4 linked regions of the Homo sapiens genome follow. The protein of the gene in region 4 purifies or fractionates together with the protein of the main gene of each other region. This does not show direct contact. Each region holds a gene or a part of one and is shown on either strand. Other genes may lie near its edges.

Region 1 (3,500 bases), on a different chromosome or scaffold from region 4:
TCAGTATCACCTACACTACTGTCTGGTACAGGGCGGTGGTGGCCGTGGTGGCTCCCTAAAAGAAAGTCTGGGAGGCAGGAGAATGAATACTGGGCAAGCAAGCAATATCCACTACACTTATCTTTTATTGCTGGCAATCTAATTTTTTAAGCCAATATATAATTTACATACAATAAAAATATCCTTTTAAAATGCCAAAATACATATGTCTGAGGACTAGCTTTCCTGGGCTGAAACCTCTGCTCCCTACGTGCTCTGCAGAATTCAGGGGACAAGTTCCAAGTGATGCCATATTTCTACTCACTCACACATAAAGGTCCTCTGTTTTCCCAGGATGAAAGCCAGTGTTATTTGGAAGAGGCCTAGGCACAGGGTGCTAGAAAGGTTTTCCTCACTCAAGACATACTTGCAGGTGTGGATCGATCTCAAATATGGTCTCTCCCCTCCGCATGTCAGTTATCAGCCAGGGGCCGCCAGCACTGTGGACAAGGAAAGGGGATACAATGGTAACTGAGGGTCTGGGGCTGATGGGCTGGGCCTACAGCCTGCCCTGTTTGCTGCCCCAGGCCTAGGACACAGGGGAATAGTTCGTGGTCAGGGACTGTCAGGGAGTGAGTCGTCAGGAAGCCCTGATGTGAAAAACCAGGGTCTGAAATAACAACGCAAGAGGGAGCCCCACATGGAGGGTAGTGGAGGGACTCCCACCCCCAGGCCCAGGGAGCCGCGCTCCCACCTTGCATGGGTACTCACATAGGCACTGTCCGCAGCAGCTCCAGGATGCCCTGCCCGTTCCACTGCTGGGCTGAGTGTAGCTCTTCAGTGCAGACACCAACGATCTGAGGCCCAGGATAGAAAGCCCATTGTGTGTTAATGGCCACCCCCCACCCCAAGAAGGTCAGCTACCCAGGCTCTCTGAGTCACCTCCAGTTGGGAGACCACAGGCAGGATCTGTGCTCAGGAGCTGGTGCAGCCAAGATTGGATGATTCCCTTAGGAGGGAGTGGCTGCCTGGCTGGGAAATGGCTGGGTCCACATGTGGGCCCTGAGGCCTGACCCTTGCCCTTGCTGTGTCTGGATGACACCAAGTCTAGCTCTTAGCTACAAAGGAGAAAACCAAGGCCTGAGCAACTCAAGATGTGTCCTCAGGCCATGTCTCTGGAAGTAGGGGAGGTTCAGGGAGCCATTCCTACCCAGTCTGGTATCATGGGGAATGTAAACAAGAGACTTTGAGACCTATCAGGCTTGGAACCACCACCAATAGGTCATAGCAGCCTGCAGAGAAACTCCTCCCTTCCTTATTAGGGGATAGGCCTTTGTGTAAATATCAAGGGAATCAGTGGAACCTTCACATAGACTTCGTGACCAAAAACAAGCACTGGTCAAAGCTGGGCAGGTTCCCACAGCTTCTGGCAAAGAGCAAGGACGACCCAGAGCTGGCTTCCCGCTGGAAAGTCCTGTTCCTGAGACTGGGTCTTCACTGTTCAAAGAATACCCGCCACCCCATTACTCCCTCTCAGCTACAGCCATTCTCTCCCAACCAAATGCCCCCTTCCCTTTCTCCCCTCTCCCATCTCAGCAGGTTAAATCAGACCATCTGAATCTACCTGACAAACCATCAGAGGAAACAGAAATCAGGACGAGGCCAAAGGAAACCTCCCACTCCCTTCACTCCCCCTCCTCAAGCCTCCTTGTCCTCCCAGGACCCTTCCCACAGGAAGGCTTGAGCCAGCGTCCAACCTGTGCCTCACCTGGAGGAAGGTAACTACCCCAAAGGGTGTCTGCACGGGCTGCATCTGTGGGTCCTCTGTCAGCAGCATGTGCTGAATTCTTGACTCACTGTTATCCAAAGGGCTGTGCCAGGACACATGGTCCCCACTGCAGAAGGTGTTCTCTGTGGGAGAGATACAAGGATCCTCATTGTTCAAGGCCCCAGATCCAGGCCTGGAATCTGGGCTGGGATCTCACTAGCCCAGGCTGGGAGGCTTCCCAGCCTCTTAGGGTAGCCCCTGTGAAGGAAGAGAAGCATTCACTCCGGATGGAAGCAAAGAGTTTGTGGATATTTCCAAAAACCTAAATTGTTCCTGCTTGCCAGTTCTGTCAGACTTGAAAAGGACAGGCTATTAGTGTGAAAGCTCCTTCGGCCTGGGAAACCAGAAAGACTTCTGGCATCTGCTTCGCTTCCCCAATATCCCGACTCATGGTGGGAGGCAGGAGCCATGACTGGATCTGCCAAGAAAGAATAAGGTGCTTTTCTGTAGGGCCACCTGGCCAGAAGTCCACAGAGAGGCAACAGGGCAATGAAAGCCCTTCACCTTGGAGAAACAGACCGAAATTCCTATGTTGCTGAAATGGCACTCAGAAGGAAACATCGAACCTTGGAGAGCCTTTGAAATCTATCACCATTTTCCCACAGGCAGATGTAGGAATTCCTGAGGAACACTAGGCTTCAAGTAAATGGAGGTCTAAATAGTGCCTCCCACACCGTGGCAGAGACAACTCATGAGGATCCTCAGGCCATGTCTCTGAGATGTTCAGATTCTGCCAAGGGTAGCTGTTGCCATGAGGGCATAGCCTCCTCACACACAGGCTCACCACTGCACTTCAAGCAGGTACGTTACTTTAGAGAGAGTTTTGTTTAAGGCCACATAACCACAAGGGAAAACAACCCCACAGGGTACTAAGTCTCTCACCAGCTCTGACTCTCATCGTGGGTGCCAAGGTGCTCTATATGTCCAGCCTATGCATCCACAGGCTCCCTTCCATGTTTTGTCCTTACACAAATGGAAGCACACTATTCTGCAGATTTCACTTAATTATATATCTTAGACAGCACCTTTTTTTTTTTAATATGGAACACTTCACGAATTTGCATGTCATCCTTGCGCAGGGGCCATACTAATCTTCTCTGTATCGTTCCAATTTTAGTATATGTGCTGCTGAAGTGAGCACGAGATCACCTTTTTTTTTTTTTTTTGAGATGGAGTCTCGCTCTGTTGCCAGGCTGCAGTGCAGTGGCGCGATCTCTGCTCACTGCAACCTCCGCCTCCTGGGTTCAAGCGATTCTCCTGCCTCAGCCTCCTGAGTAGCTGGGATTACTGGCATGTGCCACCACACCTGGCTAATTTTTTGTATTTTTAGTAGAGGTGGGATTTCACGGTGTTAGCCAGGATGGCCTCGATCTCCTGACCTCGTGATCCGCCCTCCTCGGCCTCCCAAAGTGCGGGGATTACAAGTATGAGCCACAGCACCCAGCAGAGATCACTGCTTCTCAGCATATGGAGAGCTATCTCATTCTTTAAATGGCTGTTCCAGAGTTCACTATGGTCTGTCATTCACGATCTCGGAATCTCAACAGTTGAGGTATCTTTCTTCACTTTTTATCAATATTTAAGGTAAGGCAGAACACACACATACACACACAGACACACCTTTTCCATCCAAGATACGGCTTCAGTTATTGGTCCTAACCTCAATAGTGTTCATTCAGGCAGGAGAAGGAAG
Region 2 (3,500 bases), on a different chromosome or scaffold from region 4:
CCTGGGCAACAAAGTGAAACTGTCTCAGAAAAAAAAAAAAGAATATCACCTAGTTCCTGCTTTCAAGGAATCTGAGAACACTGACGATACTGTTTATTCTACCAGGTCTTACTCTCAGGATCCAACCGTACTCTCCTGGAACATCAGCTTATTTTTAACTTGTAGACAGTGTAGAGAAGTTCCAGAGCCAACTCTGCCTGCTTCCTCTAGAGAAATTTATAAAACCTTACGCAATACACTTCATTCCAATCTTCACTAGTGTTTCCTTATTTTTTAAAGAAATCTGGGTGTGCTATATTGTAAGGACTTCAGATACTTCTTGGATAAGACAAGAGTAATATAAGTAAAATAGTAACTCGGACAACGCTCTTCTCTCCAGCATAATTTCTGTTTTATAAATACAGCCTAGAGCCATGCTGCTTAACCTCAGAATTATCTGAAGATCTCTTTAAGATAGCACTGTATCAGATCCTTTCTCCAGAGATTCTGACTCCAGTGTCTCTTAAGTGGCCTTAGGTAGGGTGTGCTGTTCACACTCAGAAAAAAAAACCCTACTCACTCTGATCCCCACACTGACAGCAAAGGATGGCTGGCTGAAAATCTCAACAACAGTATTCAGGTAAGTTTGCTCCCCTACTCACTCTGATCCACACACTGACAGCAAAGGATGGCTGGCTGAAAATCTCAACAACAGTATTCAGGTAAGTTTGCTCCCCTACTCACTCTGATCCACACACTGACAGCAAAGGATGGCTGGCTGAAAATCTCAACAACAGTATTCAGGTAAGTTTGCTCCCCTACTCACTCTGATCCACACACTGACAGCAAAGGATGGCTGGCTGAAAATCTCAACAACAGTATGCAGGTAAGTTTGCTCCCCTACTCACTCTGATCCACACACTGACAGCAAAGGATGGCTGGCTGAAAATCTCAACAACAGTATTCAGGTAAGTTTGCTCCCCTACTCACTCTGATCCACACACTGACAGCAAAGGATGGCTGGCTGAAAATCTCAACAACAGTATTCAGGTAAGTTTGCTCCCCTACTCACTCTGTTCCCTACACTGACAGCAAAGGATGGCTGGCTGAAAATCTCAACAACAGTATTCAGGTAAGTTTGCTCCCCTACTCATTCTGATCCACACACTGACAGCAAAGGATGGCTGGCTGAAAATCTCAACAACAGTATTCAGGTAAGTTTGCTCCCCTACTCACTCTGATCCACACACTGACAGCAAAGAATGGCTGGCTGAAAATCTCAACAACAGTATTCAGGTAAGTTTGCTCCCCTACTCATTCTGATCCCCACACTGACAGCAAAGAATGGCTGGCTGAAAATCTCAACAACAGTATTCAGGTAAGTTTGCTCCCCTACTCATTCTGATCCCCACACTGACAGCAAAGAATGGCTGGCTGAAAATCTCAACAACAGTATTCAGGTAAGTTTGCTCCCCTACTCATTCTGATCCCCACACTGACAGCAAAGAATGGCTGGCTGAAAATCTCAACAAAAGTATTCAGGTAAGTTTGCCTTTGCAGTAAGCAGATCTAGGGAAGCAGCATGAAATGAACCAAAAAATACTTTCCCATCATTTATTATCTCAGTAGGGAACGAATGGTGCTGGTGAACTGATACGCATGAATTTCTCGATCACATTTTAGCAGAAGAGGAACAAATACTAATTTGATTAATATAATATGAATTAGTACTCTTAATTGGAATATCACTCAGTAGAAATTGAATTTTATGAGGTCTTATGTTTCAGCTTTAACGAGAAGATTTTGCAGGGAGGAAAAAAATCATTCTGTTGGATTTTATGAACAAGATTTCCTTTTATTATTTCCACTAGTCACTGGTAATACTAGTGAACACCTGAGAGATTAAAATACAGATTTGCTTTGAGATCCTGGAAGTATTATACCAAATTAAATTACTTACTTTGAAAACCATGAGAAGAATCAGAAGAGGATGGCATGGACATTAAAATAAAATTTCCCTATTAATAATAGGGAATAAATGGTTCTAATGAAACATTAGTCTTATTCAATTATGATATGTGAAACTATCCTGCAACAGAGAACAAATTTCTTAATATAATCTCAAAGATAACAGTAATAGAAACCAATCTTTTAAACAACAATCTCACTCTGTAAATTTATGGACTTGGCATGTTCTACTTCTACTAATTCAAACCAAGTGCATATTTCCGTCAAGTCTATGGAGGATACAATGTTTCCTACAGAAGTAGTATTACCACTGCTTTCTAAATAACCCACGCTGAAAGGTAACTATAAAAGTTATCTAGGAATAGGAATTGACCATTTCCATCTCTTCATCTTTTATTCTGGTTCCTCCCAGAAATATATCAACATTCTAAGATTATTTTGCATGGTAAAAACAGACATGAAAATATATGTCCAATACCTAGTACTGCATTTTTTAAAAATTACAAAACACCATGTAAAGTGTATGGTCAGATGTATTGATCATGAAAATGGATGCAGTTATGCACACATGGTCTTTTCACAGAGAAAGAAAAAAGATGACAAATGTAAAATGAGGATGGGGCAAGGCTAGTCCTTAATAGATAGGAATATTAGTTGGAAATATGTATTCGTTTGACTAAGCAGAAATAAAATATGTTAACTCTGAAAATTTGGAGAGATGAGAAACAGACAGGATGAAGAGGAGGAGGATATATAGAACTTAATATTTTGGTATCACAAAATATAGGTGAGCCAAGAATAAAACTGGAGCTTAACCAATGAATGGAGGATTCACCTGTGTCTGGGAGCTTAGGTACCACAACTGCTTATAGTACACTATGCAGCCCCTTCCTCCCACTAATAACAAGAATAGTCACATGTGAATGGAATAAGTAAATGTTAAGGGAACAATAACACAGTAGCTCCATCTTGGGGCAGGTTCTGAGGAGTGATTTGGAAAGAATATGTACAGAATGCAAAGCATGAAATCACAAAGGGACAGAAATGTTTTAAAAATGAAAGGAACTATAATATAGTTACTACACTGTGATTTGAGCTTAGATACCTCTTGACATCTACTAAAAACTACATTGTTGTGGACCCACATAGCTTCACCTGCTCTACGCGGTAGCCTTGTACACGTGGGGGAAAAGTGCAGCCCTACATAATGGTAGAGTTCACCAGCCACTATAATGGTGGTATTCTCCATAGCACTGTAGTATCCAAATGTTGCTGTGATACCATTATCTTTTTAAAAAATGCTGAATTATCTGCCTCTCAGGATCAAAATCAACGACAATTATTTGATCTACATGAAAATAAGTTAAGTATCTGGACAGATTTGTGCATGCCTGCGACAGTCACAATACTACATTGTAGCACTGTAAAACAATCTTCTATTGAAGTAATAATTCCTTCTAAAGTTCAAATGATAATGCTGAAGCCCAACCAGGTAATGCTGCAAGGAAACCTCTGTCTGCGAAAGATGAAATTAAACAAACAAAAGCTGGAAC
Region 3 (3,500 bases), on a different chromosome or scaffold from region 4:
AACTTTATCAATGCTAGTTTTGCATCCTTAAGAGTTACAAGAAGGGATCAATAAAAGAAGAAGAAAAAAAAAAACAGGCAAGGAAACATAAATTTAGTAATTATTCCCAGGCATAGGATCTCACAATAAGTGTTTGATGTCATAAGCAAGCTCTTTAAAGATTATATTAAAAGCCACTTAACAACATGATTTCATGTTTTACGGGTTTTGTGGTGGAAATCACACATCTACCTATGTAGGTGGTTCTTAATCTTTTTTTGTCACACAAAACCCTTGGCAAGCTGGTGAAGGCTACAGATGCCTTCTCAAAATAATTTTTTTAAAAAAATCACATATTACAAAATACACAGGAATAAAAAGGAAACCAATTGTGTTTAAACAGCCATAAAACTGTTTCAAACATTCTTGATTTTGTAGTTTCACTATTCACTAAGAGCTAGGACTAATTTTAATAACTGCTGCAATTTTGAAGTAGTGATGAGTATAATAATTCAACTTAAGTAAAAATGGTGTGTTCTGGAAACCAATTACTCTCAAAGACCATCTCTACTGAGGTGTCAATCTCAAAGGTTCATAAATGTGATTTTAATTGTGACTAGGTCAATAAACCAGAAGTAGACATATTATAGTTGGCCTAAAGGTCTTTTTTTGAATTTTCTCACTGGGAAAAAATGGGAATGGACCATCTCATATTCATGGTCACATACCATATACAATTAAACTAAGAGGGTGATATTTTGTCTATTCATTAATAACCAGAAACTAGGGAATTATAAATATTTACCTTTGAAAATGATTTGTAGAAAGCTTTGTATTCATCTTCTTCTACTTCTTTTGATGGTCTCTGCCATATTGGTTTGATATCATTCATAAGTTCCCAGTCCCAGACAGTTTTTTCAACCTGAAGTTATTATAGTATTTGATTAGTCTCTCTCAGCACTCACCAAGGTTATCCTAGCAGTAACCATGGCTTCAGTAGATTTCAAAAGACTATGTAAAGACCCAGAGGACTGGTGTGGTGGCTCACGCCTGTAATCCTAGCACTTTGGGAGGTTAGGGTAGGAGAACTGTTTGAGCCTAGGAGTTCAAGACCAGTCCAGGCAACATAGCAAGACCTCCAACTATACAAAAAATTTTTAAAACTTAGCCAGTCATGGTGGCGTGTGTCTGTGGTCCTAGCTACTTGGGAGGCTGAGGTGAAAGGACTGCTTAAGCCTAGGAGTTCAAGGATGAAGGGAGCTATGATCGTGCTACCACACTCCAGCCTGGGTGGCAGAGACTCTGTCTCCAAATTAAAGAAAAAAAAAAAAAGGGCACCAAAGGATACCTGTTATCTAGTAAGGTTTCTGCCAACTGTATCAAAAGCAAAGTATTTTTCTCAATATTTAATTCAAAAAGACAATTGTTAACTGATGAAAAGCCACTTAAGTTTTTCTTCATTGTTATTTTTTAACTAGCAAAAATGTTTCTTGAAAATATTTGTTTTGAGGTTAGAAGGAAATACATATTATATATTCCCATTTCATGACTTAAAGAAATCCAACATTTTACAAAAATATTTCTCAACCACCATGATCAATACTTCTTAGTCTGCTACCTAAGCAAGCCAGAGAACCATTTTTATGGTTAATCTCTGCATGATAAAAAGACAAAAGAGGACTCAGAAGGCTTTTTAAGATTTTAAAATTCCAAACATATAAGCCACCAGTCCTAGGCAATATATAAAAGTTAGAAAACTCTTCATAAAAATGACCTGGGTTTGATACTTAAAACTTTCTACAGGACAATGTATTCAACATACAAACAAAGGCCTTATTTTAAAAGCTGGCTCCATGGACTTAGCACCTGAACTGAAGCTGACTTCAAATCAGCCAGTGCATACTTAGGTTTTCCTGGTTTTGCCTATACATGTTAAACAATATCTTATGCAGGGAGATAAACCAGACTTACTTTTTTAGTCTTTGGTTTCTTTTCTTCTTCTTCTTCCTCTACTGCAGCTTCATCATCAGATTCTTCTTTCTCTTCTTTGGCTGCTTCTTCTTCCTCCATGGGCTCCTCAACAGTTTCAGTCTGTTGAAATAAGAGAATTATGGTTAAACTCATTTGTTTAACAATTCTGATTTTGTCTACAGAATATGATATAACATTACAGGTCAAAAAATAGGTTTTTGTAAGAAAACCCTGAGAGTATCCTTAACTAATAGACCACATTTTGCCTTCATTCTTTTTTTTTTTTTTTGAGACAGAGTCTTGCTTTGTCACCTAGGCTGGAGTGCAGTGGGGCGATCTTGGCTCACTGCAACCTCCGTCTCCCGGGTTCAAGCAATTCTCCTGCTTCAGCCTCCCGAGTAGCTGGGATTACAGGCGTGTGCTACCACACACCCAGCTAACATTTTTGTATTTTTAGTAGAGACAGGGTTTCGCCATGTTGGCCAGGCTGGTCTCGAACTCCTGACCTCAGGTGATCCACCTGTCTCGGCCTCCCAAAGTGCGGGGATTACAAGCATGAGCCACCGCGCCGGCCTGCCTTCATTCTTTTAGTGTTGAATATTTAAATACGTGCCAAGGTAATACATATAAGTTTTTAATCAATATAGATTTACCTTGCTGCTCCATACATAAATAGGAAAGTTTATGAACTGTGAATATTTTTTGACGAGATTTTTAATTGTATCCAATTCAAGGTAATCAGATGCTTCTTCTTTTAAGACAAGGCTGCAAGAAAAATTCGATGTTTAGAGACACCTAACATTTAGAAGATCTGATTATAAATTCATTTAAATACCATGGTAATAGCCAGCAGTTCAGTATAATCCAAGATGTCCTAATTATTCATGTTAACTCTCCATCACCAACAAGGGTTTGTGAGCTAAAATGTAACACATGTAGATACAGTAAAGAGAAGAATCTCCTCTACATTACCTCAAGTGGAGAATAACCTTAGTTTTAAGTAGAAAATTAAAATATTCCCAACCGTCTGAATAGATTGTTTTCATTTTTCAAGGTGAGAAAGCACTGAAATATTCTGGAGAGAAATGGAATCATGCACTCTCATAGCTCTTACTGTTATTCCAGAAACCTAATGATTATTGTAGATAACTATTCCTAATTAATGAAAACATTTTCCTTAAAAAAGCTAGAAAATTAATCTGGTTTATATTTATATCTGCACTATCCAAAATGGCAGCCACTGGGCACATGTGACTTATTTAAATAAAATGTACAGTTCAGTTCCAGTTATGCTGCCACATTCCAAGTACTCAACAGTCACATGTGGCTGGTGATCGCCAAAATGGAAAAGTGCAGATATAGAACATTTCTACTATTATATAAAATTCTACCGGGCAGTGCGGGGATTACAGGTGTGAGCCACTGTGCCCGGCCTAGAACCTACTCTTAAGCACAGTAGGTAGTCCATATCTTGATACTTGTGTTCCCAATTAAGTATGGGAAATGGTCTATCTATGGTTCCCTCCCTGTCTCAAAAGGCTCATTAGTTT
Region 4 (3,500 bases):
GGACCTGGACGAACCCTTTGGTATTACCTAATGTTCATATGTTCATCATTTCCCTCACAAGAACTACAGCCTACACAGAGGTCAGGCGACTTGCTCAAAGTATGGCGATGGCTGTGGCAGAGCTGAGGTGTGAACTGTGGTCCTGACTCCCTGTCTGGTGCTCTTTCCATCTCACCGCTCTGCCTCGTGCATACAGCCACTCTCGTGCCCCCTGCCACTTTCCTCAGTATGGCCACATAGAAACAGAGGGCAGGATTTCCAGGTTAGAAGATAGCATGGCAACTGAGAACTTGGGCAGAGGGTCAGAGATAGAAGCAGCTGTGATAAATTGTGTTTATCTAGTTCCGTGGTTCCTAGGCCTGGGGCTAGCTGGGTCCAAATCACCCTGGGGCCCTTGCTAAGATGACAGCCATATTAAGTCAGAATCTTCAGAATAAGCGGGCTCAGAAATCTGTCATTTTGACAAGTGCCTCCAGTGGTTTCACATGAGCCAGGTTTTGGAGCTGCTGGTCTAATCCATTAAGACGATACTCTTCTCTGTCTGGGGTCTTTTCACAGATGACTGCAGAGGTATGTCCACCAGCAGCCCATGTGATCTGTCCAGTGGGAAGACAGCTGTCCTGCTGTCGATTCCTGTGTGTGCAGTGGTTCTTGCTCTCCTTGCAGGTGGCTCAGTTCTGCTAAATCAGGCTGGTCAGAGCCTAGCTACATATTTCCATCCAGCAGCCACTGGTGTCAGAAGGACGTTAACAGGGCGAGTTTTAGAGTAAAAGGAAGGTGACCCTGGAGGGTGTGCTAGCTGAAAGAACCTAGAGTCTGGGGAGAGGAAAACCTGTGGTCTACCCTGTTCTTCTCTTGTTACTGTGTAAACATTGACAAGCTGCACTGAATCTCATTTTTCCTCATCTTGAAATAGTTTAGGTGACCAATAAAGTTTCAAAGAGTTTCTAGGTATTCATTCATTCAACATTCACAGAACACTTGCCTTCTCCTGCACTGTTGCATCCCATATTGGGTTAGATGTTCTTTCTAGATGCTCTTTCGTTCCGTGTCACATGCACCATTGAGGGAAAGGACTGTGCCTTGTGTCCATTGCGTCTTCAGAGCCCAACCCTTGTTGTGCAAGAAGTGAAGTGAATGTTGGCAGATGTGTTGGGCTCTGTGCTAGGCCCTGGGGAAATGGTGGTGGATAAAACTTGGTCCCTCCCTGTCAGCATTTACAGTTCAGGGTCTAGGTGTGTGTGAGGTTGGGTGTAGTTCTAGAATTCCAGCAGGAGAACTCTTAGGTAGCACATGGAAATCATCCAGTGAACTTTTATAGACTACCTGTGCTTGGGCCTTAGTTTCAGAATTTCTGAGTCTCTGCGTCTGGGCAGGGTATGTGTAGGGGAGAGGCAGGTCTGGGCATCTGAGTTTAGATGAAGCAGGTGATTCTGCCTTGCAGCCTGGGTTGGGCACCACAGTTGTCAGTCAATTCCTTTTCACCCAGTTGTCACTGAGAAGCATGAGGCCCAAGCAAATTCTACTCCCTGAGTAGCTGGGACACGCCCCCATGATTCAGTTCCCAGTGTGCTACAATTATTGGTTGTATCTTTTTCTCCGTTCCCTCTAGCTGTTTGATGAAGACAATCCAGTACACAAGTCTGGAACCAGATACATGTTCACAACAGAGGGACACATTGTATCTGTGGATGAGCATCTTCGGGAATTGCCATGGAAGGAATTCTTCTCTGAAGAGGGAGGGCAGGACCAAGGGGGAAAGTCTGTGCACAGGCCGAAACCTCATGAGTTAAAAGTCATCAACTCCAGCTCCAACGTGAGTTGCTTTTTCCAGGGGTGATTTGCATATAGAGGAAGAGAAGATACTATGAATTGCTTAGTTGTTCAGACTTCCTGACAGAAAATTGATGGTGTATGCAGATTGGGAGATTTGAAAACACCTCCTAAAGACACCATTTACATAGCTGTTGTCAGGGTATAGGGAAACCGCAGGAGCAGCGGTGGCATCATCACTGCTGGCTGCAGGTGCTGGTGGGGAGAGTGGCTACAGGATCCTGGAAGGGGGGAGCCTTGTGGGAGGAGCGAGCACTCAGCAGGAGCCACGGCTCAGATCTGACTTTCAAGGCCTTGCCTGGAGGGAGCCGGCAGAGTCAACATGTGACCCCTCCCCGCTCCCCCAGTTGCCTGCTGGAGCATCTTCTTGGCTGCCTGGGGCAGAAGCTGGAGGCCGAGGGAGCCTGTTGATATGATCCATCAGTGGACCTGGAGGGGCAAATGGAAGACATTCAGCAAAATCATTTACCAGCAGCAGAAGGGAAAAAAAGCAGTGATGGTCACGATGGTCCCAATGAAGATGCTCTTCGAAGTGCAGCAAACACCCACATTCATTTAAAGTGGGGCTTTACTCCACATGCCTAGATTGTCCTGAGAAGCAGCAGGAAAAATTTGGAAATGGAAGTCCTTGCATCCCTAGTGAAAGTATCAGGTAGTTGTGTTGATTTGAATCAAATAGGATGATTTGGAAGTGAGGATAGGGAAATGTAGGTCAGTCAAAATTTCAAATCTTGTTATCCCCCAGGGCCTTGGTGGTCAGGAGTTCGGCAGCCTCCCCACAGATGGGTTGCCTTGGCATTAGGGGTGCCCTCTCATCGCCGACTGTGCTTCAGTGCTTTTCCGTTAATGCCCCAGTGAAGGTCTTCACCATCAGTCTATGAAGTAAATCGATAGGCCAGAGTGTAGATAACCACCCCCGCCCCCATTTCCATCAGTCATGGAGCGCTGATTGAGTGGACAAAGCATAATCGGGAGGAAGGGGAAGGAGGGTGAGAGGGGGAAGAGTTAATAACAGCCAGCATTTGCAAACACATACCAGGGTTAGCCTTTGCACCATTCTAAACGCTTACGTACATTAATCTGTTTACTTCTAACAACAGCCCTGTGAGGGGTGGTTACTTTTAACATCTCCATTTTACAGCTGAAGAAAGGGAGGCACAGAGAGGTTCAGGTCCCACAGTGGAGCCAGGATTTGGACCCAGGCAGTGTCTTCTCTTTTAGGAAGGAGACATCTCTGACCTGCCATACTCACTAATAGATCTGATCCCATGATTCCAGGCACCAGGGATTCAGGCCCTCAGAAGGGCTCCCGGTTCTGGATAGGAGCATGGCCTAGTGGGGAATCCACTTCCATCCTAGGCGTTTGTCTGTAGTGCTGTTGAAACACAGAGGGTAGGGAGTAATCTCCAGAGAAAATCAAGGCAGGATTCCCTGAGGAGGTCACTTGCTGGAGATCCTTGAAGGATGAAAAGGGGTATCCCAGAAAGGGTGTTCAGGCAGAAGCAGTAGCACCTGCAAAAGCACAGAGATGTGGGCTGGTGGGGGCAGTCGGGACCAATGGAAGGACCGGCCAGTCTTGATCTTGCCAGGGATGAGGAGCAGGGTGTAGTAAGTTCAACTTACTACAAAGCGTGGGGAAAATGTTTCTTTGGAGATGAAGCAGATAA

What was found.
Region 1: the proteins of EDEM1 (region 4) and SUFU purify together in Homo sapiens (affinity purification with mass spectrometry; 2 studies listed by BioGRID and IntAct, with this or other methods). This does not show direct contact.
Region 2: the proteins of EDEM1 (region 4) and USP25 purify together in Homo sapiens (affinity purification with mass spectrometry, with the first as the bait; one study listed by BioGRID). This does not show direct contact.
Region 3: the proteins of EDEM1 (region 4) and HSP90B1 purify together in Homo sapiens (affinity purification with mass spectrometry, with the first as the bait; 2 studies listed by BioGRID). This does not show direct contact.

Annotation. Positions count from the first base shown.
Region 1 is NC_000010.11:102,590,972-102,594,471, reverse strand, and holds part of SUFU (suppressor of fused homolog), read right to left. Parts: intron 1,891-3,500; coding exon 1,748-1,890; intron 837-1,747; coding exon 751-836; intron 480-750; coding exon 407-479; intron 1-406. UniProt on the Homo sapiens protein: Negative regulator in the hedgehog/smoothened signaling pathway. Down-regulates GLI1-mediated transactivation of target genes. Down-regulates GLI2-mediated transactivation of target genes. Part of a corepressor complex that acts on DNA-bound GLI1.
Region 2 is NC_000021.9:15,834,482-15,837,981, reverse strand, and holds part of USP25 (ubiquitin carboxyl-terminal hydrolase 25), read right to left. Parts: intron 1-3,500. UniProt on the Homo sapiens protein: Deubiquitinating enzyme that hydrolyzes ubiquitin moieties conjugated to substrates and thus, functions in various biological processes including inflammation and immune response.
Region 3 is NC_000012.12:103,936,910-103,940,409, reverse strand, and holds part of HSP90B1 (endoplasmin precursor), read right to left. Parts: intron 2,716-3,500; coding exon 2,604-2,715; intron 2,071-2,603; coding exon 1,951-2,070; intron 902-1,950; coding exon 785-901; intron 1-784.
Region 4 is NC_000003.12:5,211,707-5,215,206, forward strand, and holds part of EDEM1 (ER degradation-enhancing alpha-mannosidase-like protein 1), read left to right. Parts: intron 1-1,612; coding exon 1,613-1,816; intron 1,817-3,500. UniProt on the Homo sapiens protein: Extracts misfolded glycoproteins, but not glycoproteins undergoing productive folding, from the calnexin cycle.